Linked DNA regions of Homo sapiens. The protein of the gene in region 3 interacts with the protein of the main gene of each other region in a biochemical or structural test. Each region holds a gene or a part of one and is shown on either strand. Other genes may lie near its edges. The genes, in order: RIGI, MAP3K1, NPLOC4 and ERCC6.

Region 1 (3,725 bases), on a different chromosome or scaffold from region 3:
TAAAATTTCTCACAACCACTCCCCTTCACCTTTTAAAACAGTTGAAAGAATCATTTTGAGTTTAAAATCTCAATTTGGCGTTGACCTCCAATGTAATTTAGAGCTATATTACTCAAAGTGTGGAACGTATTGCCCTACTGAATCAGAATCCACATTTTAACAAGACCTCGGAGGGATTCGTATGCACCAAAAAAAAAAAAAAAAAAAAAGAGCATGATTTAGCAGACATTCATGTCTTCCTTTTCTGACTGACTCTTGACCCATTAAATCAGATGTGTATTTATACAGTTTCTGAAACAACTTATGATCTAAAGAAGCCTAGGAAAGCTAAGACCAGATATTCAGATGTTTACCAAACTCAGCCTTTGAAACAATGCTGAGTGTCAGCTTCAAGAAACCAAATGATAGTTCAGACACTTAATGACAACCAATTCTTTCACCCGTCGGATTCAGTTCCAGATGGCTTCCAGTAAGAGAACCAGGCAATGTCTGTCAAGAAATCAACTCTGAAAAGGGGGTAAGTCCTGGAGTTTGAACCTTTAACTCTAGAATTCTCAAGCTATTTCTCTGATAATCTAAACTTAGACTGAGAGTTCGGATTTTGCCTTCCTCAAATCCTTTGGGCCAGATGGGCTAATTCTGGATGAGAGTGGTTTTCCCCAGTCCATTTTTAGGGGTTATATGCAACCAAACTAATTTTGTAGGCAAGTAACTGCCTCCCTCCCAGAATCCAGCTTCCTGCTGGTCTCGCGTTAGAGATGTAGCTCTGGCTATCTGAGGGGAAAAACGCCTCTGATGGGATGTAAAAGACCGGTTGGAATGAGCGAGTCCTAAGTAGAGCTGTGAGGAGGGTACAGTGTCTTACCTTTCTCTACAATCCACAGTTCACTGAACTTGTTCCTTTCTTTCTCCAAAGCAAGTTTCAAAGTTTTGGGCCAGTTTTCCTTGTCTGATCTGAGAAGGCATTCCACCAATTTCTCTGCACCTGCCATCATCCCCTTAGTAGAGCAAATCTAAGCAAGGTAACTGTAGTTTATTGATCAATTATCTCAAAAGTTTTCCCTTTATCAATTTTTACTGAAGAAATGTCAGTCATGTACTATCTGATTTAAAGCCATTGTACATTACAGCTCAGTGGGTCATATCCATGACAATTTTTGCCCCATCCAACACAGTCTTTTAAGATACTTTTTCCTTCATCTTTGTCCTTTACACATGATGTCACTATGTCAAGCCAAGCCTTCTCATCACCTCTAAGTTCTTATACCTATCCTCATCAGCAATATTAAGAAAATAATCATTTGACAACCATTCCCAATATGGGTATATTGGCATATAGCAATATTTGGAAACAGATAACAAAATATTAACAAATTTTTCTTCAGGGTTGAGGAATTTGTATGACTTTTACTAACCATAATAACTAAAGTTTATTGTACACATACTCTGTGCAAGACATACATGAGTACTTTACATATATTATCTCATTACCCTTATGAAAATACCATATTATAAGGTAACATTATTATTTCCATTTTACACACAAGGAAACAGATAGATATTCAGAGAAACTAAGTAACTTGCCCAAGATCATACCGCTAGTGGTTGAGCTATGATTCTAACAAAATTCATCTGTGTCCAGAGTCTAAACACTTAACTGCTAGAGTCTGTAGCCCTTTCTCATTTGCTCAACTGTTCAATTTAAATTTGCATAAAATACTATTCACAGACTGTGGTGATTTTAACTGAAAATAGGGCAAACTTCAAAAAAACTTTGTGACATAAAAATTACTCAGTTCACATTAAAAGTACTATTCTGGCTGAGCACGGTGGCTCACGCCTGTAATCCCAGCACTTTGAGAGGCCAAGGCGGGTGGATCACGAGGTCAGGAGTTCGAGACCAGCCTGACCAACATGGTGAAACCCCATCTCTACTAAAAATACAAAAATTAGCTGGGCATGGTAGCACGCACCTGTAATCCCAGCTACTCGAGAGGCGAGGCAGGAGAATTGGTTGAACTCAGGAGGCGGAGGTTGCAATGAGCCGAGATCACACCATTGCACTCCAGCCTGGGCGACAGAGCGAGACTCCGTCTCAAAAAAAAAAAAGTACTATTCTATGAGTACTTTTGTGGGTTTCAATGATCTTTCTCAGGTCTAAAACAGTATAGAAAACAGAAGACCTTCCCATGTTATAATTATTTCCCCCAATTTTAGTATTTTATATTAACTTACCTGTAGAATTTCTTCACATTCCTGATTAATTAAACATTCAGACAGATCAGAAATGATATCGGTTGGGATAATTCTGGTTTTAAATTCTGGTTGTAAACGTTTTAAAAGTAATCTATACTCCTCCAACTTTTCAATTTTTTTGAAATCCCAACTTTCAATGGCTTCATAAAGTCCAGAATAACCTGAAAAAAAAGAAAAAAAATGTGGACTTTTATGAAACCAACTGAAAAATACTTTGAGATTAGTATCATAGAAATCATGTTTGAATGTATGGTGGTAGAATTCAAAAAATATCTGTAAATTACCCCCAATTGTCATTGATTTTTCAAAAAGAAAACAGTATTCATTTTAGTCAGCCAACACTTTAGGTCTTCTAGCAATATTTATTATCTATTGGGAAAAAGTACTAAGGAAAACTTTGAAGTCTTACATTTTGATCTTAGTATAAAATCTTTCTTCCAAAGTGACTCATAGACTTCACCTACAATCCCTGATTTGTCTTTAAAAAGTCAGAGTCAACAGGTTTATTAAGTATCTTCTCAGTGGAAAGCAGTAAAGAAGGCAAAAAGAAATATAAACCTTAATTCCTGCCCACAAGGAACTTTCCTTCTAATTTTTCTAAGATAATATTAAGTAAATGGGAAATTTACTTAATATTATTCTACATGCCTTTAAAAGATATTTATTTAAAAATCATATTTAGAAAGTTCAGAGAAAAATACTAATGGCCAAGAAACATACATAAGATGTTCAACCTCATTCTTTTTTAAAATTGTAGTAAAAAACAGATAAAACATTTACCATCTTAACTATTTTTAAATGTACAGTTCAGTCGTGTTAAATTCATTTTGTTATAAAAAAAAAATCCAGACCTTTTTCACCTTGCAAATCTAAAACTCTATGAAACAACTATTCCTTTTTCTCTCCTCACCCCTGCTCCTGGTAACCACCACTCTTTCTGTTTCTATGAATCTGACTACTTTAGATAATCTATATAGGTGGCAAAATACAATATTTGTCTTTTTGTGACTGGCTTATTTCACTCAGCACAGCACCCTCAATGTATGTCCATTTTGCAGGATGTGCCAGGATTTCCTTTTTTTTTTAAGGCTGAATAATATTCCATTGTATGTGTATATCACATTTTGTTGATCCATTCATCACTGATGGACATTTGAGTTGCTTCTACCTTGTAAGCTATCACGAATAATGCTACTATCAACATGGATGTGCAAATATCTCATCAATACCTTGCTTTCAATTCTTTTGGAAATACACCAGAAGCAGAATTGCTGGATCATATGGTGATATATATTTTCAATTTTTTGAGGGACTGCCATACTGTTTTCCATGGCTGTTAACACCATTTTACAATCCTACCAATCAGGCACAGGGTTGCAGTTTCTCCACATCCTCACCTATATGCATTATTTTCTGTTTTTATTTTATTTTATTTTTTGAGGCAGAGTCTTGCTCTGTCACCCAGGCTA
Region 2 (3,725 bases), on a different chromosome or scaffold from region 3:
AAAGGTTAAGAGGGACAGCAGCTTCTTATACCTGAAAGAAAAAAACATTCATTACCATATAAGTTCCAATTACTGAAAAATACATGGAAACTTAAAAAATGGTAGTAATTTACAGCATGTATACTTCAAAAACCATTTCAGCATAAAGTATCTATGAATTTTTAATTAAAGAGCCCAGACTTTGGGTTTTCATATGTCAATCAAATATTAAGGTATCAGCAACCTATTCATGCTCTGAGTCTTTCAAAAATCTAAAATGTGTCATTCTTGAGGAGGGTGTAGGGAGGGTAGGAAGATACAAGTAATACATTTTCAGAAGAAAAATTACCTGATTTCAACAGGCTCAGCTTGTGAAACATCAGTACTGACAATATGAGGATAAAATTCAGCAGGAAATTCCAACAACAGTCTATCTATAAGACAAAGGCGGCCAAGAAGTTCTTGCCAATTGTTTGATTCAGTTTGGTTTCCAAGAATACAATTTAAGACATAATCAACACCACCAATACCAATGGATCCTACAAAAAGGAAAGTAAAAATAAATGATTAAAAAATAGTGATATTAAAATCTAAAACAAGACATGATTAAATGGTGTAAGGCCAACAAAAATATTCTGAACTATTTTAAAGAATTTCTCTCTCAGAGTAATTCACATTTCTAACTGTAACACAGTGAATCAATTTATAAAATTACTTCAAAATCCTGTAAACTGCCTCATGAGAGATTATGAGATTAGACAAGGCTGCTCAGGAACATGATAAAATATGCTATATTCCTTTTAAGTGAAAAGTTATTACCAGCTTTTAGTATTTCTCTGCCAACTGCCAACTCTCCTGCTTGGCCTTTGCACAGTTCCAACAGTGTTGATATGGACAGCTGACTTGTGCGGCTAAAAACAAAGGAAAAGCAACATCAATCCTGGATCTTGGCTAAAACACTATACAATATTAGAGGAGTAATGTAATGCCTTGTGAAAAAGTGGAGAAATAATGTTTTCAGGAGTGTTTACTTTTCCACCACTAAAATCATATTAACAATGTCACCATAAGTAGTAATATTCATTTATTAGGTCTAATTTCGTAAATTTAACATATCCCCTATGTTAAGCACAGAATTTTCAACAATGGCTCTTTGCAAGTACTGATTTAAATACCAAATCAGATAAAAGTCTTATATTTTGTTAAAAGAAAAAACAAGGACCTTGATATTTTGATTTCTGAACTTTCACTAAGAAGCTCTTGAATTAAAAACAAAACCTTCCTATCCAAAAACCCTCCATTTCCTTACATAGCCAAAATGAGGTCTGAATATTATAAAATCTCTCTACAGTATTTCTTATGTTCAGTCATTCAGGTGACCAGGTAAACAACCTAAGTTTGGAGTTTCAAAAAGTGAGCAGCATAACAAATACCATGAGAACACTGAATTCTCAGAAATATACCTATTCTAATATTTAAAAATGACATTTTTCCTATGCATTTTGCAAATTACTTGTTAATTTGCAATATTTTACAGATATACAATGTTTTCTCTAAGCAACAAGGAAACATCCAATATTTTCAATCTATAGAGAAAACAATAGAGGCAAAAGACAGACTTCATGATATGAGAAATTCGTTAAAGGTAGGTACCTAATTTTTGAGATCCTGTGCAAACTAAGTCATTATGACTTGCAGAGGAAGAGAAAGGTTGTACTGAGAGAACTCTAAATGGGTGAAATGGAAGAGGCAACAGAAGGGAGATTCAACACTTCTTGCTAACCAAGATCTGCTGGGATAGAAAGAAATAGGAACTACCAAATAACTGTTCACAGTAGCTGTGATTATTAAATGAAAATTGATCTTTTCCTCCTATTTTATGGAAGGGGAAAATAAAAGAGAACCATTGGTCTGAAAAAAGCATGGCTTGTACTCATCTTTACTGTCATTGTACCTCAATTCTCTACTTCATATTTTTCTTTCCAGTTAGGGTTATTCTTGTTCCCTGTCAATTTTTAAGGATATTGCAGGAATATAAAAAATCTAAAAATTTTTTGACAAAACTGTCATAAGTAGAGTAAAATTCCACTACACTGAAAATGAGATGGATTTGTTAATTTTTTATCCTGATAATAAGGCATATGCAGGTGTAATGATCTTACTGGTTCCTATTCTGTGTAACCCATACTCTAATATGAGATTATAACTTATAGATATAAATGTCAACTACTGTTCTTATCGACTGGTCTTCAGATTATGAATGTTACTAAAGAGAGTAAATCACAATACAATAATGTGGAGATCCATGCAGTTTGTTTGCCTGGCTTTTACTTGCCAGTAGTTCTTTCCGCCAGTCCTTAAGAGCTTTATGCTGCATTTTCATTTTAAATCTCACATTAAAAGACAATGTTCAAAGACTCATTTAATAAAATGTATCAGATATTCACACTAGGTGTGAGGCTTGCTGCGAGGCACTTTTAAGACAAGAGGGTTTGAAGTGATTCATCAATAAAGCCTTACCTATTGGCATCTGCACATTTGACTAGGATGGTGTCTACAACTGGCTGGAGAAGTCTCTGAAGTTTGATTCTTTCCGCTAAACTGTGGCAAGGAGTATATACCAGCATGGCTCTCAATGTTTTCTAAGGAAAAAAATCTGAAGGTCAGTTTATGTACACTTAAAAAGCATCAGAGATAATGGCCTAATTTGAGACAATTTGAGCAACAAAATAAGTAGACAGGAATGGATTATAACCCATAGAATAAAATAAGAATTCCATGCTTCTGTAATAATACAACTAACTAACAAAATAAATGAATGGGGCAGGAAGGAATTTTCTGAACTCTTTTCTCTGCAATTTTTAAAAGTCTGAATTCATTTCAAGATGAAAAGTTAAAAAAAATTATTTTAAAAAAGAAAATGAGAACAGGCGCCAACCTGAAAGAGCTCCCAATGGTCAAGGCTGGAATAATTAGAGCAACAAAACAAATGATGGTAGTACTGGGTTGCAACCCACAGAACAAAATGAATACCCAGGAGCCTACACCAATACAAATTAAAAATTGAATAGGTATATAAACAGAGAAGCTCTTCTTTATAGAATAATTCCAATTAATTAATGTAGAAGGAATGAGGAAAATAGAAAATCACCACTAGAACACCATTTTTTAAATTATACTTTAGTTGTGGGGTACATGTGCAGAACGTGCAGGTTTGTTACATAGGTACACACATGCCATGGTGGTTTGCTGCATCCATCGACCCGTCATCTACATTAGGTATTTCTTGTAATGCTATCCCTCCTCTACCTCCCGACCCCCGACAGACTCCAGTGTGTGATGCTCCCCTCCCTGTGCCCAAGAGAGCACCATTTTTAATGGTGTAGTAATAACTGCTATAGGCAAGATCCACAAATGCTTTTAAAATCAGTGGACAAAATTTTGAGGTGAAATAGGGTATTTGCATAATCTCAAAGTAACTCTCACAAGATATTTAGGAATATTAACTTTACAGCAGGGAAACTTGGTAGACATTACCTTAACTGACAGCATCACCAATAATAAAAGCCATGGGCATATGTACCCACTGATATGATGCACTAAGAAAGGCCTGTCACCTCTGTGGCGTTCTTGTGAAAAATACGTAACTTCCATCTAATCATGAGAAAACATCAGATAAACCCAAATTGAGGGATATTCTACAAAATAACTGGCCAGTAAACTTTGAAAGTATCTGTCAAGGTCAT
Region 3 (3,725 bases):
TCTCCTGCCTCAGCCTCCTGAGCAACTGGGACGACAGGCGCCCATCACTACGCCCAGCTAATTTTTTGTATTTTTAGTAGAGATGGGGTTTCACCATATTGGCCAGGCTGGTCTTGAACTCCTGACCTCAGGTGATCCGCCCACCTCAACCTCCCAAAGTGCTGGGATTACAGGTGTGAGCCACCTTGCCCGGCCAAAATAAAGTAGTTTTCAAGAAGAAAAAAGGAATAGAGAATAGGAGGTTTCCAAAAAAGTCGAGGAGGCCACGGAATTCTCTCTAAGGAGCCGTTTTCTCTAAGGGCACAGCGGCAGGAGGAAGGCGAGGCAGGCTACTCAGAGGCGGGACAAGGACAGCAGAACATCCAGAAAGGCCGGAACGCTCCCTCCTTCCTGAGCCACATTCTCTCCTTAAGCCAGCCTGGACAGGTGCTCAGAGCTGGTCCAAGGGGTGCCCCTTTACCAACCTTCAGAGCCAGTTTCCTCACAACCACTGAGGATTTTAAATAATCATCAGGAACATTCTGCCTCCATATGAGCCAGCAAAACAGAGAACTGAGGGCGCGCACTCCATATCTCCAAGAGCAAGAAGCCTTAAAAATGATATATTCAGTGTACCACTTCCACAAAAGGATCATTCAGTCCATCAAAAAGTACTGAAAATCCACCACGCATAGTGCTAATAGCATTCCACTCCAAGGGGCTCTTCTGGAAATATCCGTTTCTCAGCCATGAAAACAAATCTAGACAGACAGGGAACATCTCACCTGTCTGTTCAGCGTGATGGCGCTCGGCTGGCACTTAGTACAGATGCCATTCGGCCACGGGAGGTGCCCCTCGCACCCTGACTTAATCTTGCAGCTGATGTTCTCCAGGGCAACAAACTTCCCCCTACATAGAAGAGAAGCAACTTAAACATCACATTGGTGAAAAGTTGAGCAAGAGGCTGGAAATGACATGCTAAGTATCTTATACCTCCTGAACAGTGTCTCAGGAGCTAAGCACGTGGCAGCAGCAGGGAAGATGGGCTAAGGATGATTCTAATGGAAGCTCTACCTACAGTTCCAGCACATTCCGAATCCCAGCTTCTGTCCCACATACTTCAACCATACAGGAACACACAACTACTTTCCTACCAAACTGTGGTGTTTTTTACCATCTATCACTAACATCCGAGAAAGCTTTCAAGAATACTGTAGAATATCTACTGATCTCACCTGTGCCACTGAGCGGGCATGAGGCTCCTACAGGTTTCATTAAATTGTCAGAAACTTTGACATTAGCCCAGTACTTAGATATTTGTAAAAAATTCTTATTCATGGGAAAAATCTGATTAGGATATATAATTAAGGCATCTTTACTCTGCTTTAGGCTAAAATAAAAACTACTGTTGAAGACTGTCAATGAGAAAATCCTGGACCCTACTCTGAACTTTTTCTTTTTCTCCAGCTTTATTGAAATATAACTGACAAAAAAAAAAAAAAAAGAAATCTGTATCTTTAAGGTAGACGTGAGGTTTTGTTTTTCAAATAAAAACGATATATTTACAGTGTACGAAATGATATTCTGAAACATGTCCACACTGTGGAACGGCTAAATTGAGCTAATTAACATATGCATTACCTCACATACTGATCATTTTTGGTGGTGAGCCATTTTTGGTATCATAGCATCTAGGAAGCAAAGACTCGTCACTGAATCTGCATGCTAACAGCAGCCACAAACACGCCCCCACTAGAGACTGTGTTCCTTGACCTAGACTGAGAAAGGCTGACCAAGTCTCTTTCACTACAATCAATCTGCACCCACTCCTTAGTCCAGAGAGTTCCACAGCTTTCCCCACTGACAAGCAACAGTGGGTTTCTAGCAGGTTTTTTCTTCTGGTCTAACATTTTTAAAAAGTCATTTTAGGATGTCAGCAGGTTGTCAGAGAAAAGCTACAATCAGGCGAATATGACATCCTTCACAAAATGTTGCTGACTTCAGTTCAGCCACCATCTCCTCGTTGCACTGACAGGAATTATAAAATAATAGCTGAAGCCTGCTACTTTCTGGTAGGGTGTACAGAGAGCCAACAGGAGAAGGTCATACAGGCAAGGGCTTGCCATGGCTTAAAAGAAATCAAAATGCTCAGTTCACCCCTTTCTGGCCACTGTTACCACCTCTGCCCACCTGGCTGAGCCTGTGGGCAACTACTGTGGTACCATGAGGATTAGTGGCTGCAGCCCCTGCTGTGGCTGAAAACCAAGCTGACTCAGAGGCCAGGCTCTGGGGAAAGGGTTACCAGGCACTGAGGTGGGGAAGCTGAGATTCTCACAGGGTAGTTGTTTTTCTGAAAAGCAGAGAATGAACTCAGACCACAGAATCAACAGGCCACCATCACAGATGCTAACTTGCTGGGGTGGTGTGTGTGGGGACAGCCTCTGTCTGATACTGCACTGTGGCCACGCAGCCAGGCGCCTGCACAGTCGCTCTGCCTTGCTAGCTCCCTTCTAGAACCAGGTTGGCCAGGCGAGGTGGCTCACACCTGTAATCCAGCACTTTGGGGAAACCAAGGCAGGAGGATCACTTGAGCCAAGGAGTTCTAGACCAGCCTGGGCAACATAGTGAGACCCCATCTCTTAAAAACATATATGAGTACATAAAAAATAAATAAATAAATATAGAACCACGGTAACTTTCAAAGGCGTGTGACCCCTTCTCATCTTTACTTCTCTCATTCACACGTTCACTGGCTATAAGCAACAACTGCCAGCTACACAAAAAGGAATTTACGCACAACCAGGTTACAGCAAGTTGCTTACTTGTCAGCCCCTCCAGTCAGCTTCCGGATGTAGGCGTGGAAGGACATGTGCTTCACGGGAGGCTCGAGATGGTTTAGATAGTCCTCATCGAATGGCTGCCAAGACACAGAGTAAGCGAGTGCAGTCTCACACGTGCCGGTCACTCCAGGCGCTGAGCCTCTGCTACGCACAGGGGGAGGCCAGCAGCATGGCCTTGGCAAGTCAAGGCCCACAGTGAAAGCAGGTACTAGGGTCTCCCTTACCACTCTGAGTCAGAACCAAGTTTTTCTTTTTTTAATTAATTGTTTTTTGTTTGTTTGTTTTGAGACGGAGTCTCACTCTGTCGCCCAGGCTGGAGTGCAGTGGCACAGTGGCACAGTCTCTGCTCACTACAACCTCCACCTCTGGGTTCAAGCAACTCTTCTGCCTCTGCCTCCCAAGTAGCTAGGACTACAGGTGCACGCCACCACGCCCAGCTTATTTTTGTATTTTTAGTGGAGACGGGGTTTCAGCATATTGGCCAGGCTGGTCTCAAACTCCTGACCTCATGATCCACCCGCCTTGGCCTCCCAAAGTGTTAGCTTTACAGGCGTGAGCCACTGAGTCTGGCCAATTTAACTGTTTTAGAGATGGGGTCTCATGCTGTTGCCCAGGTTGGAGTATGGTGGTGCAATCATGGCTCACTGCAGCCTCGACCTCAAGTGATTCTCTTGCCTCAGCTTCCTGAGTAGCTGGGACTACAGGCGTGAACCACCACACCCAGCTAATTTTTTAAATTTTTTGTAGAGACAGGGTATACAAAAAAAGAGTTGCCCAGGCTGAACAATTCCTAGGCTCAAATGATCCTCTGGCCCTGGCCTCCCAAAGTGTCGGGACTACAGGCGTCACTGCACATAGCCAGAAGCAAGTTTTTCTTTGTGTGCCAGTTATCTTTTCAAGATTAAA
Region 4 (2,801 bases), on a different chromosome or scaffold from region 3:
TTTCTTTTGAGAAGTCAAGTATTAATTTTGTTCTCTAAGTGATGTATCTTTTTTTCACTCACTACTTTCAAGGTTTTCTCATCTTTGATTTCAGCATTTTTGACTATGATGTGTCTGTGAATCCCTCTGCATTTATCATGCTGGAAGTTCACTAAGCTTCCTAGATGTTTTTCAATCAATTTGGAGAGTTTTCAGTCATTGTATCTTTAAATATTTCCTTTTTCTTCTGCTCTTCTTGTACTCCCATTACATGCATACTTAATGGTGCACATAATGGTGCTTCACATTTCTCTGAGGTTTTGCTCATTTTTCATTTTTTTTCTCTCTGTTCTTTGGAAAGCATATCTCTCTTATTCTATCTGCCAGTTGGCTGACAATTTCTTCTGCCAGTTCAAATCTACTATTGAACCCCTTTAGTGCATTTTTTCCTTATTATAGTTTTTAACTTCATGAATTTAGCTCTTGCCACTTGAAGCTGGAGGGGATAAGAAATGCTGGCATCTTGCCCCTCCCTGTGAGGTACCATACCTCTGGACAGGGAGCTGAGGGAGACGGAGCTCTGTTTTCTTGGCTGCACCCACTGAAATGGGAGGGAGGGAGTGAGTGTGTTGTGGCTGAAATGTCTGACTCACTGTTCTTACCAAGATTTGGATTTTCTTGAATAAGCGTTACTTTATTCTACATGCTTTTAGGACAATTTCCAGTGGCATTAAGTGTTTGTGTCTCTCTGTATGAGAGGAAGGTGTTTATTTTTTGTTACAATTTTCACTAGTTATAGCTAATTCCTAGGACAGTGGGTCCACAGGGCCCTTCACATTGCCATTCTGGAAGTGAAAATCTAAAAGATATTTCAATGTTAGAAAATTTAACTGTGTACTTTACTACACCAAGAAAAGCTATACAATTATATCAATATATACCAGAAAAGACTTTGAGGACAATCATTCTACCATTTGTGATAATCAATTATGATACCACAATGATAAAAACAGTGGGTTACTAAGCAAAGTTAGATAAATGGACCAATTTAACAGAATGCAGAGCCAAGAAACATTTCCGTACATTATATGTAAATTGGTAAAGGTGGCCTTATACATCAGGAGGAAAATAATAAACTATTTTTTAAAGGTGCTAGGGAAACTAGCTATCCATATGGGATTAATAATTCATAAGAATGTATTCATGACCCTAGCTAGGGAATGGTTCTTAAATAAACAAAAAAAAATGGAAAGACTGAATTTACTATATTTTAAAACTTCCGTATGATAAACATCACAAAATAGATATGTGAATATGCTAATTCTCCATATTTTTATGTAAGTTAAAAGACTCACAACCAAAACTAAAAATCTATAAAACACCTAGGAATAAGCCTATTATGAAATGTGCAAGACATTTATGAAGAAAGTTATTAAAATTTCATCCAAGAATATAAAAGACTTTAATAAAATGAGGCCTATCATAACACTAATCAGAAACATTATATTAATTATAAAGAGGTCTATTATTCTCAAATTAATGTGTAAACAAATGCAATCCTAGTCAAAAGAACACCACAATTTTACTGGAATTTAATAAACTAATTCTTGATTCAGCTGGAACAGAAAACACCCAAGTATAAGACACTGAAGAGGGGGAGAAAGGAAAAGGAACTTGCCCATGAATGGCAAAACACAATGCAAAGCACCAAATGACAGCGTGAGGAGTGTGGTTGGTAGAACCAACACCTGGATCCACAGGACAGAAATAGACAACTTAGCATGTGATGAGTTGAAAGCTGACATTTTAAACTGGTGGAGAAAAGAATATTTGTTGATCATTGGAATAACTGCCTTTTTGTTTTTGTTTAGGGGAGCAATCCTAAAAGATAAACAACCCACAGGAAAACTAGGCCAACATAACACTAATAGGCAATGTACGGTAGAGATCTACAAATGGCCAATAAACATGGAAATGTTTGATTTTGTACGTAATCAGGGAAATTCAAGTGAAAACAAGGTACTTTCAATCACGAGACTGGTTAAAACAAAACAAAACAACCTATCGATATTGATACCACTTACTGTTGGCAAGGGTTTGGAGAAATGGGTCCTTTTATGGAGGGTGAATTGATGCAAGCAATTCTGCTACATCCACTGACATTTAAAATCTACATCATTAATCCAACAATTCTGTGCAGGCAGAGCTATACTTACAGGAATAGAAATGTCTTGCATATAATATTAAATGAAAAGTTAGTTGCAAAATAAGGATGGTATAAGGCCATTAATATAAATTACATATTTAAAGCAAACTAATTGCTATAATAGACTTCAAAAGACAGTAGCTTAAGCAAGTCAGTATTTTATTTTACTCTTAAATAACAGGTCAAAGGAGAGCAGTTCAAGACTGGCAGGCCAACTTCTCCTTCCTCAACACATCACTTCCATCTCTTGAGATGCCAGGTCACTACTGAAGCTCCCATTGGCCTCCCAGCCAGCAAGAAAGGGGAATGTCAAGGAGAGTGCATACCCTGCTTCTTTAAAGGGCCAATTGGGAAGTTTAAAACTTAGTCATATGGCCACAATTAACTATAAGAGAGGCTGAGAAGTAGTCTTAAGCTGAGCAGCCAGACGTCCAGGTAAAACTCAAAAATTTTATTAGTAAAGGAAGAATGGGAAAATGACATTATAGCAGCAGTCTGTGTCATGTGATTCTCTAAATGCATGGAGAATACACACCAAACCTAGGGCTGTACTTAGCTGTGGAACAGGTGCAAGATGGTGTGGGGGTGGGGAGGCAGACTATTGCTTGAACATTTT

Evidence for each region.
Region 1: the proteins of NPLOC4 (region 3) and RIGI form a complex in vitro, tested with the Homo sapiens proteins (one study listed by IntAct).
Region 2: of the proteins of NPLOC4 (region 3) and MAP3K1, one has a biochemical effect on the other in vitro, tested with the Homo sapiens proteins (one large-scale study listed by BioGRID).
Region 4: the proteins of NPLOC4 (region 3) and ERCC6 form a complex in vitro, tested with the Homo sapiens proteins (one large-scale study listed by BioGRID).

Annotation. Positions count from the first base shown.
Region 1 is NC_000009.12:32,491,526-32,495,250, forward strand, and holds part of RIGI (antiviral innate immune response receptor RIG-I), read right to left. Parts: intron 2,418-3,725; coding exon 2,236-2,417; intron 1,027-2,235; exon of another isoform or gene 1,014-1,026; coding exon 866-1,013; intron 1-865.
Region 2 is NC_000005.10:56,877,876-56,881,600, reverse strand, and holds part of MAP3K1 (mitogen-activated protein kinase kinase kinase 1), read right to left. Parts: intron 2,622-3,725; coding exon 2,500-2,621; intron 891-2,499; coding exon 799-890; intron 519-798; coding exon 329-518; intron 32-328; coding exon 1-31. UniProt on the Homo sapiens protein: Component of a protein kinase signal transduction cascade. Activates the ERK and JNK kinase pathways by phosphorylation of MAP2K1 and MAP2K4. May phosphorylate the MAPK8/JNK1 kinase.
Region 3 is NC_000017.11:81,605,927-81,609,651, forward strand, and holds part of NPLOC4 (nuclear protein localization protein 4 homolog), read right to left. Parts: intron 2,897-3,725; coding exon 2,802-2,896; intron 889-2,801; coding exon 765-888; intron 1-764. UniProt on the Homo sapiens protein: The ternary complex containing UFD1, VCP and NPLOC4 binds ubiquitinated proteins and is necessary for the export of misfolded proteins from the ER to the cytoplasm, where they are degraded by the proteasome.
Region 4 is NC_000010.11:49,453,824-49,456,624, forward strand, and holds the end of ERCC6 (DNA excision repair protein ERCC-6), read right to left. Parts: 3' UTR 647-2,801; downstream 1-646. UniProt on the Homo sapiens protein: Involved in repair of DNA damage following UV irradiation, acting either in the absence of ERCC6 or synergistically with ERCC6. Involved in the regulation of gene expression.